3 linked regions of the Homo sapiens genome follow. The protein of the gene in region 1 purifies or fractionates together with the protein of each later gene. This does not show direct contact. Each region holds a gene or a part of one and is shown in the gene's direction. Other genes may lie near its edges. The genes, in order: BMP2, SNX18 and MGP.

Region 1 (3,657 bases):
CGGGGCACCAGCGGACGTTTCCACTCTTGCTTCTGTACTATCGTTTCTGAATCTGATTTTAACTCACTGCTTGTGTGGTGGGGGAGCCAGGGATTCCCCTTTAGTAACTCCGCACCCTCTTCCTGGCTTGCAGCCAGAAGAGCTACTCCTCCTGGAAGAATTGGAGAGAAATCAAGTGATGGGGAAGATGAGGGCAAAAGGCATGCCTCTAGTCAGCTAAACGTGCAAGAATTCCACAGAGGGAAAAGGAGAAAAAGGGAGGCAGATTGAGATTTCTTTAAGTCTGTTTGGAAGCTTTTGCTCTATAAATCTGCCGCTTAAGCCAGGGTTTTAGGGTAGACAGAGCCAAGGGCAGAGTTTTCAGAGATAGTATTGAAAAATCAAAGCCCAGGGCCCCAAAGTCTTTCTAATTTATAGTTGATCTGGGCCTGGTTTGGAAGATTTTGAATCCCAATCTAATCCCCGTGGGAGATCAATACTACAATCAATCTTATTGTTTCCACAATGACTTTCTTGTCCTGTGCTTAAATCTGAGATAGGCTCTGAGTAGAGACAAGGCAAGCCTTCAGATAAAAGCGTTTGTAGCAGCTGCCTGTTTTTTTTTCATGTGCACCGAAATGTGGATTTTTTTTTCTTTTATGATACTACATGTGGTTTTTCTAAGGTGGGATATTTCTGCTTGTTTCATCAGAAGGGCATTTAGTGGACTGGAAATGTCTTACAGCAGCTATTGAGGTCTGCTGTACCTAAGTTCTTAGAGCAATTAGTCAAAAATATGTTCCACTTCAATTCTTTTTCTACACTTTTAAATGCTTCTTTGGCTTAATACATTTAAAATAGAGCATGGGTTTCTTCAATTCCTAGAAAAGAGTACAAAAGTGTATATCACAGAGCAACCACTTGGCAGATATTTGGGGAGTTGGGAGTGAAGTTCTCTTTCTTGCCTTTCCCTGCTTAGGTGGTAAATTTCAAGTGGGAAATTTACACTGATAATAGACTAATGGGAAATGGCACTTCCAGATGTTTTCTCCCAGTGTGAAGGGTGACTTATACTTGTGAGAGTATTTGTTGGTAATGGGAATAAGTCCCAAAGGCAAGCCACATAGCAGAAGATACGTTCTCATTGAGGCAGCTACACATTACGACGGGGACACTGAATTGATCATCAGTTCATTTACAAGCACATTTCTAAGTGAGGTGCTCTCTGCTAGCAGAAATCAGATTTGAAAGGCAGTAAGATCTCACTCCACTCTTTCAGAATTCATCCAATGAAAGCAGAAATCACCTGTTGTCATATGTAAAATTTGTGTGTATGTGTACATTCTGCCATCTTAACCCTGAAATGATTATAGATCCAGCTAATCATTCCCAGGTAATGCTGATTAGAATACTTTTTTTTTTGTATAGGAATGTAATAAGAACAACTGTTTTAGACACCTCTTCTGGAAATTTAGCATGGAAGCTCTCAACTTTATTTTTAAGGCCTGGAAGATGCTGTGTCTCTGTTACAACTTAAAAGGAAGATCATTTAAGTTAGTTAACACCTAAAACATTCCATTGTGTGAGGATTTTATCAGTGATGTCTGCATATTCTCATCATTCATCTAGAAGTGGTTTGATCAGAACTAAACAGGCTACACGTTATTCAACTGTGTTATTTTAACTTAAAAAGCATGCTTGAGTTTATAAAATCAGAATTTATATCTTTGTGAGTGTAAATGTTACCTGAGAAACAGTACAGAAGTGACCAACTTGATTAAAATCAACTTGTAATAACTTCAGGTCTTAATGCAGTTAGATAATGGAGAAAAGCTATGTAATTTTGCCCCAAATTTCAACTAATCCATTTCTTGTCTCATTATGACTAATATATCATCCTTAATCTGGATGGATATAGCACTTTTTTCAAGACTAATCATTGTTGTATACACCCAGGATTTGCTTTTGATAAACATCCTTGTGCCATGCATGCCACGAAAAAAGTTTTTGGTAAACCATGTGATGAAGGTTGCTGGCTCAAGAACAGAATTTAGTTTCTACAGCATTAATGAGCATTTATTTGAAAAAAGACCATAAAGACCCAATCATAAGAATTACCTGTTGGGTTTTCTTTGTAGGTGTGATCGAATGGTTTGGTGGAATTACTCGACGAGATATCATGATAGCATTCTTTCAACCAATATGAGTATAATGCGACCATATCATAGGGGATCTGAGACAGAATTATCAGTTGTATTTTTCCTATTGAATTTTGTCTAGTCCTTTCTCCAGTGGCTTTTATTTGGGAGAATATCAGCTTTGCTAAAATGTTATTGTTTTCAAGATCATTAAAAAGTGCTTCAGCTACATAGACCTTTGGAAACTGCCATTGAACATAGAAAAGTCAGTTCTGCAAGTGGAAAGAGTGTTTTGTGTATTGCTGTAGTTGGAAACACATTGAAACTGGTTGACTTCACTGGCCCTCCAAAAAGTCTTTATGCTTTTTTGTCAGATGGGAGAGAGAAAGACCAGGTGCTTCTTGTTCTCCTCACTCTGAAGGACACAGTCTTCTTTCTACATGAAATAACTGGATTATTTGCCTCTGTGACTGAAGCTTTCAAATAGAGATTAACCCTCTTTCCACAAATATAATTATTATGAAAATATCCATATAATAGAAAAGTTCAAGAAATAACTATTGCCCTGCATTAGAGACTTTGTGGCACAAATTCCCCCGTGCAAACAACAGATTTGGACACATAGATCCACCAAAACCAATACTTACCTGGTATGGTTCCCTAGTGGCCCCAGGTATTTCATTGTCATTACAGAGGCCACATTAAGTAGGAAAATTACTCTATTTGGAAATGGTTGTTGAGATTGAGGCTTTGGTGTCCAGTGATACTTCCTTGGCACTGACATTTTCCGTTCCACCTGTTTTTTAGTGGTTCCCCTAAATTTCTCTTAATCCCTTTGCAGTGAACTATTTTGCGTTCTTAGACTTGCTCTTTGTGTATTTTCACTGAGACAATAAGAGAATATTTCATCATTCCGAAGGTGTTGGTGTTAAGGGTGGGCAGAGGCCAAATCAGGGTTGTTGATGACAACCATGCTCTCTATTCCTTTATTTGCCATTCCCTTGTTGTATTTTTTTTAAAATGGAATGTTTTTAACCTTTTGTATTTGATATTTTTTTTCTCCTTGATCAGTTGTCTGTTATTTTATTATCTGGAAAATCTTATATTATACTCAGCCTCTTTCATTTTGTGTTAGGGCAGTGACTTCCAGCCTTACTGATTGCCAGCATATCCCCAGGTTTTGTTGTTGTTGTTGTTGTTTTACTGGAGATTTTTTAGCCCAAAGTGTGTTTTAAAATCCTCGAAGCATAACGGTAACTTACTTTTTTGATAAAACTTACCATACTTTATTTAGAACAAAAGGGCAGCCACAAAATAGCAGTGGCTCCTTATAAAATAGACACATTCCAGTGGGCCCCGTCACTTTTCTGCTCATTTCTGTCTGTTCTGTCCATCATACCTAAGTCATATATTTCTGTTCATTTAGTTGGGACAGAACTCACCCAATGTTATCATTGTACTAAATATAAATGTGCCCCTAATGGTTTTGACTTTTGCTTAAGTTTTTGAGTCCTCATGTATGTTAGGTAGTGCCATCTAG
Region 2 (2,821 bases), on another chromosome or scaffold:
TCTTTTAATATTCAGTTTTTTGAAAAAAAATGGATCTACACTGTTAACTGATTGAGACTCCACTGTGATTCACTTGTTTACTTAAAAACTTTTCAGGGATGTCTGTAAATTTCAGTGTTAATATGTCATGAAAAGTGGTGTGGATTGATCTAAGGAGGGACCAGAAATAATTTTTGCTATTCCAAATACTGAAGGAAAAAGATAATTGATTTATACTATGTTTTAAAAAAAAAAAAGGTATTGATGAGCCCCCCCCCCCCAGGACATTTAACCTTAAAATTTATTTTAAATGTATTCTTTTATTATTATAAGGGAAATACAGATGGCTGATAAATACCAAAAAGATTCAAAAGCAGCTTAATTTAAAAAGCACAAAGAGATTCTGGCTTACAGTGCCCCAATCTCAATGTTTTTATAGTTGCTGAGCTAACTAATGTGATTATTGAGTTTACAGATTTAAAAATTGTCACTGTTAGAGTATCTACTGTTTTTATGAAGTCAAACTTATGCTGCCTCAGAAATCCCTGGGTACTGAAATGGTAACATGGAAGTGAAGAGGTCACTTTGAAATATTGGTGAGTCACAAAGATTAAAGAAAAGGATCAGTTTGCAGATACTCAGAAAAGGTTATTGAAATAATTACTGAACAGCACATTTTCTCTCTAAAAAGTAGTTTCATATGGGTTGTATTTTTAAGATCAGATTATCATTTTGATATTTGGTCAAAATTTTGTACCTTAGGTTACTTAGAGCCAGATTTAACATCATGAACATTATGTGGCTTTGTCTTTACTACAGATATGTGGAACTGTAACCAAATATGTTGTCTCTAAAACTTGTTGATTGCAAAATACAGTTCTATAAACAAAACCCATATGTATATATAAATGTTAATTTTGCGGAAGTCTGGAAATTATAACTATAGCATTTAAGTTTGAGTCTGTATTGGACAAATAAGCACCATGCTTTTCAAATGATTTAAAAATTACTTTTATTTGCCTCTTTATTTTGATGGTGGTTGGATTTTTTTTTTTTTAATAGTAAAATCACTAAACTTGTGCAATGGTAGCATGGAAATTATCTGAGGTATATTGTATGATTGTACTTTAGCCAGGGTGGACATAGCTTAAATTATAAAAACTAAAGATGAAAGTACAAGGAAGTATAAGTTATACTTATGTAAGTATAAATTCATGCTGCCTACTTCTAAGAGAAATTTCATTCTTCATAACCACATAACATTATAATGCCACTGATTCATACGGGATTTACATTAATTCTATGGGGGAGGACACTAGAATTATTAGTGTTCATTTTCATCTAAGATCTTTATTCTCTAACGTTCTTGGTCCTATTGAAACATTGCAGTATGCAAAACTACTGCAATGTTAAACCCAAGAGAAAAGCCATTATCATGTGTATGCTGGTCATCATGATCAGTGTGGTACAATTTTTAAAAATAAACTATCATGCCCTTCATGCCATTATTTGTCTTTATTTCTATGATTTATAATCCTGATATGTGATGTGTTTGTAACACAGGGTGTGCACTTGAGCCTGGTTTTACTGTTTTTATTAGACAGAGTTGTTTATATGCTGTAACTGTAACGCAGCGAGACTGGTTCTACAGCCATGTGTCGTAATCTTGTTCCCCGTCCAAGCTGTTGTATCTGAAGGTACCCAGTTTGCACCCAGGATGAGGGAACGCATTCAAAAGTGAAATGTAAAGCCAGTGCACGAATATTATAGTAATTGAGATTTTCCCAGGCTTCACTGATACAGTTGTTTTGCATTTATTCACAATAATACAGCAGATTCTTAAATGCCGATTTTTAATTGTCTTAAATTTTGCTGCTGTTCTCATAATTAAGGACTTGAAAAATGTTTTAGTCTGTCAAGTATGTAAAGTTTGTGTAAAAACTTTTAAATGTCATTCTTAAGTTCATTGCCATAGCCATTTTCCATTTATGTCTTCATTTTCCAAAAATCAAATGCCATGTCTGATACCTTTAAGTCCATAAGCATTCAATTTTCTCATTTCCACCTTCATCTTTGGTTAACAGAATAAGTAAAACAGGGTATTATTTATTTGTAGTCTAGAAATGTTGAATATTGTTTTATTTCCTTCAAAATGTTATGATTAGTGCAGATCAGCCATGTTTATCTTTTTAAAAAATAAACAGGTTGCTTTATTTCTTAGCTTCAATGGAATATAATTATTTTTTCTCCACTCATCAAGGAGGCATTTATTTAATGTGAAGAATTACACAGAAAAATAGAAGAGCATGTTCTGTCTTGAGCTTCATCTGCAGTTACCATAGAAATTATTCATCAAACACTGTAGCTAATTTGATTAATTTAAAACCATCATCATTCAGATAGTCCCATGGAGTATCTGCTTCCATTAGTGACATCAGGAATTAAGCACATAGCAGTAAGTTGTGAGTGAGAGGTTTTGAAATAATAGCTCCCATGAGTCCAATACCTGAGACAGAAGCAGGTGCTTAAGTAAAGTACTTGACATACTGTCTGTTGGTTGCCATAAATAGGCGAACTCCAACACACATAAGCCAAAATATAATAGCTACGGGACCTGGCATATCTTGCAAGGGGCCAAAGTCCCATTTGGCAAAGCTTGCCCTCTTTGTGGGGCTTTGTAGTCTTGTATCTGCTTATCTTTACAGATTTGTTTTACATATATGTTTTTTCTCCTGGCCTGCCTTTCTTAGCATCTTGTAATGTCTAGAATGGCCTAGCCATCTTTTACTTCACAAATATACTTGGACCAGTGATGGACATCTGGACAAATCACCTACGGTTT
Region 3 (4,192 bases), on another chromosome or scaffold:
CCATCCCAACAAGACAAAAAGAATGAAGCATGAGGCTCCACCTAGTTCATCACTGCTCCTTGAAATACATCAGTATTGAAAGACACATCCACCCCACCCCCAACCCAGCCCTATTGCTGTTCCAGCTCAAGAGTCAGAGGTCCCGAAGCTGTAGCTCTTCTACAATCTGCTGCTCTGTGACTTCAAGTCTGTTGTCTGCAAAGAAAACTATTGGGTTCCCAAGCAAGAGAGGCACATCTGGTAGGACAGATTTTGTGATTGCAAAAGAAGGGGGAAAAAAAGAAAGAAAGAAAAGACCTCTCTATACAAGATAACCAGAGGCATCAAACTGAAATCCTCCTGTGGAAAATAAGCTAGTACTTCTGGGCCTGATGGTGTAGTGAAAACCTGTGCTTGAGGATACATTACAGTGAAAGAGCAAAGTGAATAGTAAGTAGCTATTACTTACCTCCTTAGGGAGGTGTGTTGTTTGTCTGTACATCCCCCACAGCACCTAGCACAGTACCTTGCATCTCACCTGCCACTCACTAAAAAGTCTATCAAGTTAGTTAATTATCGAGACAACGCCCTCAGAAATGAGAGAACAGTACCCTCTTATCCTTGCTGCACTTTCCAGCACTGATACGCTGCCTAAAAGAGGACTAGGGCACAGGTTTGAATTAATGTCACAAAACTGGATGGGCAAGTTACAACGGTGTTGATTAAGGAAACAGAACTCATGGTGCACCGGATATCTCCATCCTGATGAACCCTTGGAAAAATGCCAAAGATGCATATCCCCAGGCAAATGCCTGATTAGTCTGGGATTGATAGATTGGTCTAGGATTCAGCCCTACTGGGAAGATGTCTAAATTATAATCAGTGTAGAAAGCGAAGTTCTCCTAGAAGAAGAGGCAAAGGTTAAAAAGAAGAAAAGAAAAGAAAGTGAAGTCCTTTCTCCCCCAAAACCTCTCATCAATCAATCAGGGTAACAAACAGAACACTAGGGCTCTGTCTGTGGACCAAACCCAAAAGCCCTGCGGTCAGGGCCAGGAGGGTAGATCATGTGTTTGTGGCAACTTCCTCTGTGGGCTTTTGCCCAGGTCTGTCCCCAAGCATACGATGGCCAAAACTTCTGCACCAGAGCAGCATCCTGTGTAACACAGTCAGGTCCAGCAGTTAGGGAAAACTGCCCACTCAGAGTAGATAATATCTGGAAGGAATGACTGTTTGGGAAAAGTTCCAATGCTAGTTCAGTGCCAACCCTTCCCCACCTTCTCCAGCTCTCTCCCACTGGTTCCTCCCCTCTCAACTGCTCTGGTTCTTATAAAAACCTCACAGCCTTCCACTAACATCCCGTAGGAGCCTCTCTCCCTACTGCTGCTACACAAGACCCTGAGACTGACCTGCAGGACGAAACCATGAAGAGCCTGATCCTTCTTGCCATCCTGGCCGCCTTAGCGGTAGTAACTTTGTGTTATGGTGAGAAACTTTTCTCCCATTTCTCTGTGTTTACTTTTCTGCCTCTGACTTTGGCTTACTTCTATTTTTCCTCTCCCTCCTCCTCTTCTTCCCCCTTTCTCTGTTATAATCTTAAAGTACCATTACTTTCACATTTCCCAGTCTCCGCAGAAACTGATCTGTTCTATTAAGTCTTTTTTATATCCTAAATATCCAGAGTCTTATGCAACTTAACAGGCAAACCCGTTCAGTGGTAAGTCTCTGTATATCTAGAAACTCATATTTCAGAAAGAAGATACCAAATTCCCAGCCCCCTGCATCCTCATTTTTAAGGATATTTATTTAGACTTTGGTATCAATGGGTTAAGGGTATTGTTTAAACCACTTGCCTTTGAGAAAATCCATTTTTATGTGAAGTATTAAGTATAGCCCTTTCTAGGGACTGGACAATCTCATGAACTTACTATGTTTGTTCAGTTAATTAATTTTAAAATAAAGTTTTACATCAAAAGAATTTTAGAAAAGAATCATTTTCATAACTCCTGTTGTCAGAAAATAAATTTTGCCTGTTTTCTATATGTCATTAAATATACCTGCATTTGTTCAAAGCTTATAAAAGGAAATCTGAAGCAAAGTTATTTACTTATTTCAGTCTTTTGTTTCAATTACCTAGATATTTTCATTGTTTTAAAATTTAAATTACATTAACAACCATAAAGATTATGCTTCTCACTCTTGTATTCACAAATTTTCTGTATTAGAGGATTTGATTTCTTCACCTCCTTTTTAAGTTTTGAAGAAAATTCACTTGCTGGCAAATATTAATAGAAGCTTCTTATTCCAAAATTTATCTGCTGTGCTCAGGAGAGTGGCAGAAAGAAGAAAACTTCGGCTTTGATATCGTTTCAGTTCTCTCTCTGAACTGGCATCGTGCCCAGGGTGAGCTGTCAGCTGGAGCTAGTGGTTTCTGTGGCTGCCAATTTAACACAGGTTCTTAAGAGGCTTTCGGAACCCTCTTAGAAACCTGCCCTAGTAAGCCCAGCAGAGCAACTGCCCTGTAGTTCTCTTGCCTGGAGAAACCTGGCTGTCTTCTGGATCCTTCTTAATCCTCTTTGACCCTGTTCTCAAACAGGCTCTGAATAAATCAGAGAAGAAGGTTCTCTGGAGACTTCTGTACAGCACTTAAAGTGTCTTATTTTGCTTGTCTGAAGACGTCATAGCCCTTGGGAAATTTTAGCTGAAAATGGCCACTCCCTCCTTCAACATCAGAGAAACTAAAATATAGAGATATCCACAGCAAGGCCAGAGCTAGAGAAAAACCTCATAAATCCTAAATTCCTGAAATTTCTAATAACCACACTGCTAAATATATTCTTCATGTTTTTAGACTCTTTCCTCTTCTTCCATCCCTGTATTTAAACTATCACAGTGTCTAAATTGATAAATAATAACATAATGAATCATGGATAAATATTGATATAATGAATCTTTTTTTTTTAATTTCAGAATCACATGAAAGCATGGAATCTTATGAACTTAGTAAGTGAATATTTAACTTCTTTATTCAAATCCCTTGCATTAAAGAACCTCTTCTTATTTTTAAATAAACAAGATGGAAAGATATATAACAGGGAGGGAAAAGGGGGCCTCTTTTGGAAAACTAAAGTAAATTTTTAAATCTAATGACTATAAAAATTGCCAAAGGAGCAATTTTTTAAGTTTGAAGTAGTGCAATATGGGATTTAAGCTACAGGCGACATATTTAGAAGCCATAAAATCTCATTTGGAAATTTTAAATTGGCACCACGTCAACTGCACAGATGGAAAACGAGGAGTAATGACAAATGGTAAAGCACAGAGCTGGACGCCAAGTCAGCTGGGAGACCACAGGCGCCACGTTAAGCTGAGTGCTGTTTTGGTTTTTTTGTGTTTTTCTTTCTTGTTTTTTTTTTTGAGACAGTGTCTCACTCTGTCGCCCAGGCTAGAGTGCAGTGGTGTGATCTCGGCTCGCCGCAACCTCCACCTCCCAGGTTCAGGCAATTCTCATGCCTCAGCCTCCTGAGTAGCTGGGATTACAGGCCCATGACATCATGCCTGGCTAATTTTTGTATTTTTAGTAGAGATGGGGTTTCACCATGTTGTCCAGGCTGGTCTCGAACTCCTGGCCTCAAGTGATCCACCCACCACAGCCTCCCAAAGTGCCGGGATTACAGGCATGAGCCACCACACCCAGCCAGCTGATTGCTGTTGAATAGCTGGATTTATAAAGACTGAGCATAGGAGGAAATGGCACATCACTCTCATTTTTAATTTATTCATTATTTTTATAGTGTTTAAACTGTTCATGTATCGGCAATCTAGTTATGCTTCATAAATCCTCAGGACAGAGAATTTCTCCTCAAAAGGAATTTAAAATCTACCAAGTAGAAATACAGAAATTAAGAAAGGCAAAGTGATCGTCCAAACTCAAAACCAACAAAGCCTATATGACAAGTCTCTAAGACACATGGATTGATTACTGATTTCATTTGATCAGGAAGTTAATGAAATCTACTTTATACTCTCCTTTAATTTTTGCCAATCTCCGTTTATATGAGTTGCATAAGTTAAGGCACTTTCAAATATATTTGTGTCAAGGAATATTCACGGAAATATTTCCAGCTATGTGTCGCTAAAACTGCATTTATTTATTTTCTGTTCTAAGATCCCTTCATTAACAGGAGAAATGCAAATACCTTCATATCCCCTCAGC

Evidence for each region.
Region 2: the proteins of BMP2 (region 1) and SNX18 purify together in Homo sapiens (affinity purification with mass spectrometry; one large-scale study listed by BioGRID and IntAct). This does not show direct contact.
Region 3: the proteins of BMP2 (region 1) and MGP purify together in Homo sapiens (affinity purification with western blotting, with the first as the bait; one study listed by BioGRID). This does not show direct contact.

The regions. Positions count from the first base shown.
Region 1 is NC_000020.11:6,770,567-6,774,223, forward strand, and holds part of BMP2 (bone morphogenetic protein 2 preproprotein), read left to right. Parts: intron 1-3,657. UniProt on the Homo sapiens protein: Growth factor of the TGF-beta superfamily that plays essential roles in many developmental processes, including cardiogenesis, neurogenesis, and osteogenesis. Induces cartilage and bone formation.
Region 2 is NC_000005.10:54,544,388-54,547,208, forward strand, and holds the end of SNX18 (sorting nexin-18), read left to right. Parts: 3' UTR 1-2,199; downstream 2,200-2,821.
Region 3 is NC_000012.12:14,883,000-14,887,191, reverse strand, and holds the start of MGP (matrix Gla protein isoform 2 preproprotein), read left to right. Parts: upstream 1-1,337; 5' UTR 1,338-1,400; coding exon 1,401-1,461; intron 1,462-2,304; coding exon of another isoform or gene 2,305-2,379; intron 2,380-2,946; coding exon 2,947-2,979; intron 2,980-4,144; coding exon 4,145-4,192. UniProt on the Homo sapiens protein: Associates with the organic matrix of bone and cartilage. Thought to act as an inhibitor of bone formation.